4 linked regions of the Homo sapiens genome follow. The protein of the gene in region 3 purifies or fractionates together with the protein of the main gene of each other region. This does not show direct contact. Each region holds a gene or a part of one and is shown on either strand. Other genes may lie near its edges. The genes, in order: TMEM201, AXL, KCNG4 and ATF6.

Region 1 (3,595 bases), on a different chromosome or scaffold from region 3:
GACCAGGTTCGAGGACCACCCCTCCCCCACGAGGTCCTTGATCCTGGGCTGCAGAAAGGGTGCGCCCCAGGGAGCCTCCAGATTGAAAGGGGCCTCCTGTGCTCCAGAGAGAGACAGTCCCAGGATGTGAGAGCCAAGGAGGCTGAGGGGAGGGAGCAAGTGACAGCTGCCCAGCCTGGGGCCAACCCTCTCTGGTGGAGAGGACAGTGGCCCTCGCTGGCTACACGTGTGGTGACAGGTGGGGCCTCGGGATAATCCCAGCCCAGACACTGGGGGATCTATGCTCTGGGCCCCCCTCTACCCACCTCATTGGTTGTGGGACACTGGGGGACTGGGGAGGGGTGGGCAGAGAGACCGCCACTGCCCAAAAAAGCCCCCCAGTTCCGGAAATCCAGGAACAATGTGGGTGACAGGCAGCAGCTGTGGGAGCCCTGGGGCCCCGGCTTTGCTGCTCCGACTCTCCACCTCTCCCCCAGGGGCCACCTCCAGCTCGAGGACACCGCTTGAGCCCCTGCCAGAGTGGGCAGCCACTCCCTGCACAGACGGCCCCCCGTCCACAGGACCAGAGAGCACGGCCCTCTGGCCTTTCATCCTGAGGCGCTGCTCAGAGAAAGGAGGACGGAGCCCCAGGAAGTTCCTGTACTCTCAGCCTCAGTGTCCACATCTGTGAAGTGGGGGCAACCACAGCACCCCCGGCTTCTGCATGCTGCAAGGACGCAGTGACACAAGACAGAAAGGTGCTGTGCTCTGCAAAGAGCCAGCTCTGTCGCTAACCCATCGGGCTGGCCAGGGGCCTGAGGGGGAGGCTGGGCCCTGGGAAGCAGGGCTCCCGCTTCTGACACTACTGCTGCTGCCCGGCCCTCCCCTCCACCCCCTTCTCCTGACCAGGGGCATATGAAGGGAGATGTGTGATCACCTGTCAGCTGGGGACAAAAGCACCTCCCTCACAAGGGACTGCTCGTGGGACGCACTTAACAGTGACTGGCCTAGAGTATGTACGCAAAAAAGCCAAGTTACATGGAGTGGGGGGAGGCTTGGGAGAGAAGGGGAGATGGGACCAGGCCCTGCGGGGAAGGCCCAGGGCCCACAGGGGCAGCTGGGATCTCCCCCAGCAGCCTCGGCCCACACCCTTCTCACCCCACACCCCCTGCCCCAGCACAGGCCCAAGCCCTCACAGAGGACAAGGACCGCTGCATCTTGTCAACAGCATGGAGACAGCGGGCAAGGCCTGCAGACCAGCGACGAAACGGAGCCAGCCAGCTGGGCAGGCAGTATGGCAACAGGCATGGCCTTGGAGAGCAGCTCTGCCTTCTAGGGCCGCAGTCTCATCCCTCACCTGTCAAAAGGGGCTGCTGAGCATCCCTGCCCCAGGAGAGGCCACTGTGAGGATCCTACAGGAGAATGCAGGGAGGCGCTCAGTGCTCGGCATTAGGACAGCGCCACCGGGCGCCGACTACATGAACAGCCAGGGAAGGAGACTCGCTCTGGGGCATGTGGAGACCTGCTCTGCTGCGGTGCCCGCATCTAGCACTCCCGGGCAACTAAGCACGTGGACTTCCCTGTGCTAATTACTAGCTGTTGTACAGGCTTCTTTGTAACTGTGCATGGGGGCGTGTCCTGATGGGTGAAGACCTGCTTGTGTGACCCCCCACCCCTGAGCCGGACAAGGCTCTGCACCCAACTGACTTTGGGTGACAGGCTTCCTATCCCCACGGAAGGCCCCTCAGCTCTCTTACCCTGTTTGAAAAGGAAGGTCAACCCTTGAGCCTGCCTAGGGGACCAATGACAGCTGAGCAGGGGCTGTGGCTTCTGTCCAGGGTGCCTGCCATGAAGCCCCGCCCACCCCAGGAAGTCATGTTTCCATTCTGAATCTCCTGCTCTGTTGCTAGGGAAATGGCTCCACTGATCTAGAATGAGGCGGCCCGGAAGAGGGGGGAGGCAAGGGATTAGCCCTTGTCCCTGGGGCCAGCAGCTCTAACTCCTGTCACTCTCAGCCCTGGGTAATCCCTGCTAGAGTTGGGGGTGGGCTCTCTGGTGGCCAGAGCAGCTGCCACCCACTTTGGCCAGGCGGGCCCTACCTGCCAGGGGGTCCTCTCCCACAGTGCCTTTGGGGGTGAGCCCTGAAAGGTCCCAAGAGGCAGGTAGGCCAGGGGTCGATGGGGAGCTGGGCATGAATTGCAGGTCCCCCAGGCACCAGCACGGCGGCGTCAGACACATGACCACATGTGAAACACTGTCCACAGCTCGGACGAGGTCCCCACGCAGGTGGGGGAAGTCCTGGCCCCTAGCCTATGCTTGCCTCTGCCCGGCCTGTTGAGGCAGCATCTGGGTCAATCTCTTCTGAGCCAGCCTAGGCTGGACCCTGTTTTTGCTCTGGGAGAAGCCCCCAAGTTTCCCTGATAAACCCCTCAGCCCACTTCTCTTCTGCAAGCCAACAACCTCCGTCCTTAACTTGACTCTGGGACAAACCACAGTTGGTGGGCAAGGTTTGAGGTAACGTGACAGAATGTCCCTGCAACACAAGCAAGAGAGGAGCTCGGGCCTGGAGGGGCTGCCCCTGCCCACAACGGTTCCAGCTCTGGGGGGACAGCAGCTGGCCCTATGGGTCCCATTTGATGGGTGGACACGAGGGCCTGGAGGCCACTATCTCGGCTCCTGCTAGCTCGATGCCGAGCCCCTGGGAAGCCTGAGGAAGCCCGGAGGGAGATGGGTCCCTAAGAAAAAGCTAGGGCAGCTGCATGCTCTGTACCTGCCCCGTCCACAAGCCCAACATACACACTGAGGGAAAACAAGACGGGCACGTGTCCTTAATGATGACACCACTCCAGAGCCCTGAGCACGGACATGTATTGAAACAAAGCTCCTGCGGGATGCCTCACTATTCCCTGCAGGTGGGAGGGGCTCTGTTCTAGGTGCGAGCCCAGCGCTGGGTCCTCAGCCTAGGAAAGCACCAGGTAGGGGGAACCTGCTAGAGGGGGCACTGGATGGGGCTTGGTCCCTGCCCTGGGGAGCTCAGTGGTTGTAGCAGGCTGGCCAGCTCCCAGAGTCTCTGCCCAGCCCTGGGAAATCATCACCTCCTCAGACAGGGGCCTTAGCACATTGCTCAGGACCTGGGACACTGTGTGCTGGCCCCAGTGCGGGGTTGGAAAGACTGTAAGAGTCAGGTTCCCTCAGGGGCCAGGGAGCCAGAGGCCAGCCTCCCAAGCAGCTCCTCACCTGCACTTCCCGCTTAAGTGGGCAACACCGTGTTTCATTCAACCAGAAGGACCAGAGAAGAGGCCTCCTGGGCTTCAGCGACAGAAGCATCAAAATGCAACTCAGAACTTAGCACTGCCAGGGCCTCCAGCCCATCTCCAAGCAAAACATACTTGAATCCACAGCAGCAACTCCAACATCAGGATGGAAAACGCCCCAATCCACCATTCTAGGGTCGCTCCTGGTGCGAGCGGAACATCCCATCAGTTAAGCAAGCACCACCCTAGGCTGGCAGAGATGCAAACGTGAGCAAGACAAGAACGACGACCTCCCAGGGCAGCTGGTGACAGATACCACAGGACAGAGGCCAATAAGCGGGGCATCTGCGGTCGCCCTGAAG
Region 2 (2,617 bases), on a different chromosome or scaffold from region 3:
AGGAGCTGACCCCCCAACCCAGCCAGACCCTAAGGATTCCTGTAGCTGCCTCACTGCGGCTGAGGTCCATCCTGCTGGACGCTATGTCCTCTGCCCTTCCACAACCCCTAGCCCCGCTCAGCCTGCTGATAGGGGCTCCCCAGCAGCCCCAGGGCAGGAGGATGGTGCCTGAGACAACCCTCCACCTGGTACTCCCTCTCAGGATCCAAGCTAAGCACTGCCACTGGGGAAAACTCCACCTTCCCACTTTCCCACCCCACGCCTTATCCCCACTTGCAGCCCTGTCTTCCTACCTATCCCACCTCCATCCCAGACAGGTCCCTCCCCTTCTCTGTGCAGTAGCATCACCTTGAAAGCAGTAGCATCACCATCTGTAAAAGGAAGGGGTTGGATTGCAATATCTGAAGCCCTCCCAGGTGTTAACATTCCAAGACTCTAGAGTCCAAGGTTTAAAGAGTCTAGATTCAAAGGTTCTAGGTTTCAAAGATGCTGTGAGTCTTTGGTTCTAAGGACCTGAAATTCCAAAGTCTCTAATTCTATTAAAGTGCTAAGGTTCTAAGGCCTACTTTTTTTTTTTTTTTTTTTTTTTTTTTTTTTGCGATAGAGTCTCACTGTGTCACCCAGGCTGGAGTGCAGTGGTGCAATCTCGCCTCACTGCAACCTTCACCTACCGAGTTCAAGTGATTTTCCTGCCTTGGCCTCCCAAGTAGCTGGGATTACAGGTGTGTGCCACCACACCCGGCTAATTTTTATATTTTTAGTAGAGACAGGGTTTCACCATGTTGGCCAGGCTGGTCTAAAACTCCTGACCTCAAGTGATCTGCCCACCTCAGCCTCCCAAAGTGCTGAGATTACAGGCATGAGCCACTGCACTCAACCTTAAGACCTACTGTTCTAAAGCTCTGACATTATGTGGTTTTAGATTTTCTGGTTCTAACATTTTTGATAAAGCCTCAAGGTTTTAGGTTCTAAAGTTCTAAGATTCTGATTTTAGGAGCTAAGGCTCTATGAGTCTAGATGTTTATTCTTCTAGAGTTCAGAGTCCTTAAAATGTAAGATTATAGATTCTAAAGATTCTATAGTTCTAGACATGGAGGTTCTAAGGCCTAGGATTCTAAAATGTGATGTTCTAAGGCTCTGAGAGTCTAGATTCTCTGGCTGTAAGGCTCTAGATCATAAGGCTTCAAAATGTTATCTTCTCAAGTTCTAAGATTCTAATGATGATCAATTATAGTTTCTGAGGCTTTATGATAATAGATTCTCTTGTATAAGATCCTAGATCCTAAGGGTCGAAAGCTCTAGAATCTGCAATTCAAAAGTTCCAAGAGTCTAAAGATGGAGTTTCTAAGGTCCGGTGTTCTAAGATGTGATATTCTAAGACTTACTCTAAGATCTTAGATTCTCTGTGTCTAAGATTCTAGATCAGATGCTCCAAGATTCTAGATGATTAAATAAGATTCTAACGGTCTGTTCTGTTTCAAGGCACTCTAGATTCCATTGGTCCAAGATTCCGGATCCTAAGCATCTAAGTTATAAGACTCTCACACTCAGTTGTGACTAACTAGACACCAAAGTTCTAATAATTTCTAATGTTGGACACCTTTAGGTTCTTTGCTGCATTCTGCCTCTCTAGGACCATGGTTAAGAGTCCAAGAATCCACATTTCTAAAATCTTATAGTTCTAGGCACTGTAGTTCTAAGACTCAAATGTTCTAAGTTTCTAAGATTCTAAAGGTCCACAGGTCTAGACTATTAGGTGCAATTTCAAGGTTCTAACCCTATACTGTAGTATTCTTTGGGGTGCCCCTCTCCTTCTTAGCTATCATTGCTTCCTCCTCCCCAACTGTGGGGGTGTGCCCCCTTCAAGCCTGTGCAATGCATTAGGGATGCCTCCTTTCCCGCAGGGGATGGACGATCTCCCACCTTTCGGGCCATGTTGCCCCCGTGAGCCAATCCCTCACCTTCTGAGTACAGAGTGTGGACTCTGGTGCCTCCAGAGGGGCTCAGGTCACATAAAACTTTGTATATCAACGAGCTTCTGTCTCCTCTTGTCTCCTTTTAGCTGTGATGTGGCCCCATTCCCTGGCAATTCAGTTCCCCCATCAGAAAAAAGAAGGGCTTGGTAGGGTCTTGGAATTCTGTCCTCACTAGAGAGGGTAGAAATGAACACACAGATAGACAAAAAGACATACAAGCAAAGAGATGCAGGTTCTCAGAAACCCCCAGTGAGGAACTGGCATACAGATCCAGGATCACAGACACACACACACACACACACACCTGTTCCGCCGCAAACTAACAGACACATGAATTAATGGACACACCCAGGAGGACCTGGTCACAAATACAGAGACTGAAACTCAGACGCATAGAGTAACACAGACACACAGAATTACACAGACACAAGCATATTTACAAACATGCTCAGGCAGATACCCGCCACGAATAGGAAGAGACACAGACCTAGAGTCAAGTGACACAAATACTCAAGAGACATGTAGAGTACAACAGGTACTCACAACCCCGAACGTTCAGACTGACATAGAAACACAGGCACAGAACACCTCCGATCATCACGGACCCACAAAGGGCCTCCAGCGAAGACCAGCCCACCGTG
Region 3 (3,500 bases):
ACAGTTTTACAGGTGAAATGTACATACACTGAAATGCACAAATCCTAGGTGTAGAATTTAATAAACGGATGCACCCGTGTCAGCCTCTCCCCTGTGAGTATAGAATATTTCTGTGACCCCAGAAAGCTCCCTCGTGGCCCTTCACAGGCCATCCCTACACTACCCAGAGGCAGCCACTGTTCTGATCACTTTGTGCACCCTAGATGAGGCTGCCTGTTCTCGAGCTTCCCACAAGTGGAAACACACACCCGGCTTGCTTTGCTCCACATCATGCCTGTGGGATTCATCGGTGTTGTTTCACCATTCACACCCTGGGCCTTCTCCAGGCTGACGCTTGCTCTTCTTCATTGCAGGAAGGAGCCAGAACACACCTCGCTCTGCCTGTGGCAAGGGCTAGGAATAGGGTGACCAACCATCCCGGTGTGCCCAGGGCCCAGGGGGTTCCTAGGACCCGGAACTTTCTGGGTTTAAGCACAGAACTTCCACAAAGGGAGAAAGGAAAACTTTTTTCTTTCCTTCTTTCCCCTTTTTTTCTTTTCTTCGAATGTTTGCTAAGCTGGGAGTTATTTCCTCTGCCCACACTCCATAAACACCCCCTGCCCCAATGCCAGCATTTCTGAGGAACCAGTGCTGGGAGGCTGGATTTAGGATGCACAGCAGAGCCTGATGCAGGTGCAGTGACGCGGCAGAGCAGAGCCCTTGCTGCAGTCCAGAGAGGTGGCCAGAGGGCCAGGCCGTGGGAGGGCAGGAGCCGGTGTGCATGGCTTGAGTGTCCAAATGCCAGCCCCACAGGCAGGAGGAGGACCTGGCAGCGCCTTCTCGGCCTCTCAGGAGTCACCTTCCTGAGCTATCGGGTCATCAGTATGGAAAAGTTATTCCCAGGCTATAAGTATTTTAAGCCTAGGGAGAAACTCCCAGGATGTCTGCAAAGAGAGAGGCCTTGTAGGCAGAATCTAGCTCAGAGTCTGAAAACCTTCCAGGTGCCTCAGAGTGAATGGGGGGAGTTACCAAAATGTAGATTCCCGGGCCCCACCCTAAGGTTTGGATTTTGTGATGGGGGCCCAAGAATCTGCATTTACAACAAGCACCCTGGGGGCTTCTGGTGCCAGGGTTTCCAAATCAGCTTTCAGAAATACCAATTCTGTTCCAAACTCTGCATTGGAAACTGAAGCACAGAGAGGGCCAGTGGCCGCTGCAAAGTCACACAGCAAGTTTGTAGCAGGGCTGGGGAATCAGAACCCAAAACTTCTGAGCCCTTCAGGATCCTGAAGCAAACCCTGGGCAGTCATGGCAAAGACCTCTCGGTGGGCTGGAGAATCCCCTCATCTTCCTGTAATATCCAGCAACAGGAAGAAGGTATTGCTACCCTTACACTGACCAGGAGACTGTGGTCCATGACCAATGTATAGTTCGGTTAAAATGGCTACAGCGCATCCTGTGCCTGCTAGGTGCACGGTCCTGTTAATGGCTTTATGTGCATAATTTCCATTCATCATGACAGCCCTCCAGAGGTTAGACAACTGAAAGTCCAGAGGAGACAAGTGATTTGCCCAAGTAAGTGGAAGAGATGGGATTTGAAACTGCGCTAGGCTCTGAGAGTATTGTAACTAGACAAGCAGACATGGTTTCTGGGGGGCTTGAAGGCTGGTAGGGCACAGAAAGTTCCTGATTCTCCAATCTTGCTAAAAACTTGCTGTGTGGCTTCGCACTGGCCACTGACCCTCTCTGTGCTTCAGTTTCCAAAGAAGAGGCTGGAACACTCTGGACTCCACCCCTTGGCAGTGCTGCCTCTGACTCCCACCCCTGCAATAGTCCACACAGAAGTCCAGCCAGAAAGGTGCCCTGCCCTGGACAGGCAAATAGAGACTGTCGTGGTTCAGTCTCTTTCTCTTTCTCCAGCAGCCAGGCATAAAGAACATTTCAATTTATGATTTCTGTGGACACTGGAAATAATTTCTTTTTCCATTTCAGAGCATTTTAATCCAGAGAAAACTGTGGTTGTCAACACCTTGCCTTTTACACAGAGAAGTTGCTTTGGCCATTCATCCATTCATCCATCAAATATACATATCTGTGTGTGTGTGTGTGTGTGTGTGTGTGTGTGTGTGTAAATATGTATAGCAAAGTTTTCTACCCTGGCTCCACATTTGAATTATCCATGGGGGTTCTGGAAAATTCTACTGTGCAGCTCAAACCTACATTAATTAAATTAGAATCTTGGGAGGACCCTGCCCAAGCAACAGAATGTTTCAAGGAACCCCCAGGTGATTCCAACATGCAGCCAAGCTTGAGAACCACACACTAGAACAGTGCCTGTCAAACTTCAGTTTGCATGAGTCACCTGGAGACCTTGTTAACTGCAGAATATGATTCCGTGGGATGGGGTGGGGCCTGAGATGCTGTGTTTCTAACAAGCTCCTCGGGGAGGCTGATGCTTTTGGCTCAAGGTCCACACTTTGAGTGGCAGAAGGACTGGTGGAACTACCCTGAACTACTGGGGAGGAAGAACAAAATACAGAACTCAGAACGGCCCCCGCCCAGCTGGAACTGCTGAGCTAGAATCCCGCATGTCGATGGCAGCAATCACACATCCCAAGGGCTGTCTTGGGGATTCAGGAACCCTCTCTGCCCCACCAGCCTTCAAGCCATCAGAAACGATATCTGTTTGTCTAGTCACAGAATGCCCGGGGTTAGAACCATGCCTGGCACAAAGTGGGCCCTCCATACATTTCTGTTAGCTAAATGAATGAGGGGTGGTAAACAACAAAGTTACAAAATAGCCAACAGTATCTAAGAGACCCTGGTACCGCCTCCTATGTATGTGAGCTCAGGCGAGTCACTTCACTGCTGTGACCAACTTCCTGGGCCATCAAATGGGGTCACACTGCCTGCTCATAACATTGCTATGTGGCTTGAGTGACAGCAGGAGAGCAGTGCGTGGTCCCCCAAGGTACTTAACATCATTAAGGTACAGGCTGGCAGCTATAACAAAGAGACCCCAAACTAGAATAGTTTTAAGCCAAATTTTTCTCTTGTGCAATAGTCCCAAGGTGAGGGATGTAGGTGAGTATCGACAACTCTTATTCCAGATTCTCCCGCCTTGATGTTCCCTCCTCCCCTGGGGCGCTGGTCCAGTCCTCTCTTCTTAGCTGGGTTGCAGGCCCATTTGTGCTGTCCCGGCTCACAGGAAGGATGGAAAGAGTGTGCAAGAGTTAGATCCAGAGGTGGTTTGCATCACTTCTGTTTCCAGTCCGGAGGTGAGGACTTAGTCATATTTGGCCACACCTAGCGGCAAGGGAAGCCAGAAAGAACAGTCTCTGACCTAGCCGATCTGCTGTGTACCCAGCCACAACTGGAAAACTGTGTAAAAGGAGGTTCTGGTGGACGACTAAGTTTACAGCACAAAGCTCATGGGCATGAAGTCGTCCCCCGATTTCCAGCACAGTTGCAAGTCCACTCTCTACCCCGCGTTGTTGCCTCTTCTCCCCGCAGGGCGAATG
Region 4 (3,595 bases), on a different chromosome or scaffold from region 3:
AGTACTCTAGCTAGAGTTAAAAAAAAAAAAAACAAAACCAACAAACTCAAAACTCTCTTCAGATGTTACTTCACCTCTTGCTGTTACTGCATTTCTCTACTGTATGTTACAGCAGAATTCCTTTTAAAAAATGTCCACGTTCACTGACTCTAGTTTTTTATTTCTCCTTGTCTCTTGAACCCAGTCCAGTCAGGTGCCACCACTCCACTGAAACTCCTGTTTTTTTTTTTTTTTTTTTTTTGAGACAGAGTCTTGCTCTGTTGCCCAGGCTAGAGTGCAATGGCACGATCTTGGCTCACTGTAACCTCCACCTCCTGGATTCAAGCGATTCCCGCCTCAGCTTCCTGAGTAGCTGAGATTACAGGCGCCTGCCACCATGCCCGGCTACTTTTTGTATTTTTTTTTTTTTGAGACGGAGTCTCTCTCTGTTACCCAGGCTGGAGTGCAGTGGCTCACTCGGCTCACTGCAAGCTCCACCTCCCAGGTTCACGCCATTCTTCTGCCTCAGCCTTCCGAGTAGCTGGGACTACAGGCACCTGCTACCACACCTGGCTAAATTTTTTTTTGTATTTTTAGTAGAGACGGGGTTTCACCGTGTTAGCCGGGATGGTCTTGATCTCCTGACCTCATGATCCGCCTGCCCACCTTGGCCTCCCAAAGTGCTGAGATTACAGGCGTCAGCCACTAATTTTTGTATTTTTAGTAGAGATGGGGTTTCACCATGCTGGCCAGGCTGGTCTCAAACTCCCGACCTCATGTGATCCACCCGCCTCGGCCTTCCAAAGTGCTGGGATTACAGGCGTGAGCCATCATGCCTGGCCTGAAACTGCTGTTTTTAAGGGCACTACTGATTTCCACATTGCTAAACCCAGTGACTGTGTCTGATCTTATTAAACTTATAAGGAGTAAATGAATAAATAAATGGGCAAGGTGGAGGTGAGGTGGGAAAGTTTGTTGAGTACACTAAAAATAGTAACTACCATTATTTACTACTGTTGAGGGAAATCTAATAGTGTGGGACTGGTGCAAAGGATATAGAAATAGGCAATAGGTTTTAGGATACTTTGGGGTAACTGATGCTAACAGTTTCTTATGGATTCTTTTGGAATGTTCTATAAATATACGAGTATATTTATCAACCCACCTTCAGTTATTTTTTTAACCACAGAAAAGTCAAAAGATCAGTACACTGATAAACGTGCGTTTTCCTTATCTAGATTTACCAACTGTTAACATCGTGCCACATTCACTTTATATCTTAATATTACCCACACTTTCCTCCTTTTTCACATCTGAAAGTGGGCTGCAGATAATATGAAACTCCTAAACACTTCACCATGTATTTCCTAAGAATGAGGAAATGTTTATTTTTAAAAAGCATCAATTCATTTTAATATGCTTTATACTTCAAAGCTAACATCACAGGGTTCTTTTTCACCTTCTTGCACCATATGCTTGTATTTCTCTTCTGCCGCTATGAGAATCCTGATTCCCAATAACATCCTTTGTTTTTATAGGCTCACTTCAGCAGCTCTGTTGGAAATAAACTGAAAGAGGGGCAAGGGCAGAAGCAGGGAGACGTTTTGGAGGCTGTTATAGCAATCCCCATGAGTTACAATAGTAGCAGTGGAGTAATGAGAAGTAGTTGGATTATGGATATGTACACACACACACACACACACACACACACACATACACACATATATATACATACATTTTAAAATTTTGAAATAGTTTGAAATCTATAGAAAAGTTTTAAGAACAGTGCAAAGAACTCTTGCATGCCTTTTACACAGACTCCTCAGTTGTTAAATTTTACTGCATTTACTCAATTTCTCTCTTTCTCCCTTTCAAGAGAGAGAGATGTGTTGACCCATCACCTTTAAATACTGTAGTGTATACTCTCTATCCTCCTGCCTCCCAAAAGAAGGCCACTTTCCTCTATTACTACCCTATATTTCTTCCAGTCAGGAGATAAACATTGATACAACAGTGTCATCCAATTCAAAGACACCATTCAAAGTTTGCCATCTGTTTCAATAATGATTTGCTTTTCTAGTCTAGGATTTTACTTGCAAACACTCATTGCTTTTACTTATCATGTCTCATCAGTGTCCTTTAATCTGGAACAGTTCTTTAGTCTTTTCCTGTCTCTAATGTCCTTGACAGTCTTAAAGAGTAGAAGTCTTTTATTCGACAAGATGATCCTAAACCACTAAGGGGTTCCTTGGAAAAATGACCAATTCCAGGGCTGGGAAAGTGCAGGGAAAGTGCAAAATAAGCCTGGAAAATCTTGGGCCAGAAATTCTCAGCAAATGAACATGTTAAAAAGAACAAAGGCCCCAATATGAATGAACTCCCCGTGGTCAAATCTGGGAAAATTTGGCATCAGAATAAAATGAGGGTATACATTATAGTGTAAATACTATGCGATGTTCCTATGCCATCATATCATCCTGTGATATAGTCACATGATCACTTGGTCAAGTTGGTATCTTCTAGGTTTCACCACTGTAAAGCCACTGCTTCCCATTTTGTATTTTATTGCTATTTTGGGGGAGATAATCTGACATAACACCAATATCCTTTTCTTATTAAACCTCTAACCACGAGCCCTAGCCTCATTAATAACCCCAATCTATATCAGTTACCACTCTAATGGTTGCCAAATGGTAACTATCTAACTCTATCATTCTGTCTATCATTCTATCATTGTTGATTGACATTGCACTATAAGAACCAACCTACCTACCTACCTTCCTTCCTTCCTTTGTTCCGTGATGAACTCATTGATTCCTTTTTTATTTGGTGGTTGGTAAACCGCTACTCTCATTTTATTCTGATGCTCAGATTTTCCCAGATTTGACCACTGAGAATTCATTCATATTGGGGCCTTTGTTCTTTTTGACATATTCCTGTCATTTGCTGAGAATTTCTGGCACAGCAAGATTTCCAGGCTTATTTTGCACTTTCCCTGCTGCAAGCCCTGGAATTGGTTATTTCTCCAAGGAACCCCTTAGTGGACTTCTGTTTGGTGGAAGATGGTATTTAGTATCCAAGATCTGGTCACCCAGTATTTTCATTGCTACTGGGATGTCATTGCTTCTAGGACCTCTTAGCAGACAGAACTAGGAAATATATATACATGTGTGTATATATATATATATGTGCATGTGTATATATGTATATATGCATAATACAAACATCTGCATATGTGTGTACATATATATATACTTCCACAGCTATCTGTATGTGTTATATTTTAAATGAGTTTATTTACTAATACTTCTAGTTCTAATCCAACATCTTAGGATTCTTTTAGTCTCCCGACTCTTTCCATGCTCTTAAATCCTTTCTCAGACTGTGAGAAATCTGACTCCAATTATTTTAGTAAAAGGCAAAAGATTCATTCGTTCTGAAGAGAAACCAGAGCATTCTAATTATTTTAGATATATTCAACCATTTGCTCAGTCACCTAACATATTTGTTCAGTATGACCACTCTCCTAACCACTCAGCCTGCGTTTTCCATCTGCTACTCCATTCCCCCTCCCACTGGGCTGGGGCATGCTGGCATCTTTGCTGGGCAATAGTCT

The links.
Region 1: the proteins of KCNG4 (region 3) and TMEM201 purify together in Homo sapiens (affinity purification with mass spectrometry; one large-scale study listed by BioGRID and IntAct). This does not show direct contact.
Region 2: the proteins of KCNG4 (region 3) and AXL purify together in Homo sapiens (affinity purification with mass spectrometry; one large-scale study listed by BioGRID and IntAct). This does not show direct contact.
Region 4: the proteins of KCNG4 (region 3) and ATF6 purify together in Homo sapiens (affinity purification with mass spectrometry; one large-scale study listed by BioGRID and IntAct). This does not show direct contact.

Annotation. Positions count from the first base shown.
Region 1 is NC_000001.11:9,591,889-9,595,483, reverse strand, and holds part of TMEM201 (transmembrane protein 201), read right to left. Parts: intron 1-3,595. UniProt on the Homo sapiens protein: Critical regulator of angiogenesis and endothelial cell (EC) migration. Promotes the migration of endothelial cells, which is essential for angiogenesis.
Region 2 is NC_000019.10:41,259,733-41,262,349, forward strand, and holds the end of AXL (tyrosine-protein kinase receptor UFO isoform 1 precursor), read left to right. Parts: coding exon 1-172; 3' UTR 173-2,034; downstream 2,035-2,617. UniProt on the Homo sapiens protein: Receptor tyrosine kinase that transduces signals from the extracellular matrix into the cytoplasm by binding growth factor GAS6 and which is thus regulating many physiological processes including cell survival, cell proliferation, migration and differentiation.
Region 3 is NC_000016.10:84,223,013-84,226,512, reverse strand, and holds part of KCNG4 (voltage-gated potassium channel regulatory subunit KCNG4), read left to right. Parts: intron 1-3,492; coding exon 3,493-3,500. UniProt on the Homo sapiens protein: Regulatory subunit of the voltage-gated potassium (Kv) channel which, when coassembled with KCNB1, modulates the kinetics parameters of the heterotetrameric channel namely the time course of activation, deactivation and inactivation and on the voltage-dependence of activation.
Region 4 is NC_000001.11:161,772,745-161,776,339, forward strand, and holds part of ATF6 (cyclic AMP-dependent transcription factor ATF-6 alpha), read left to right. Parts: intron 1-3,595.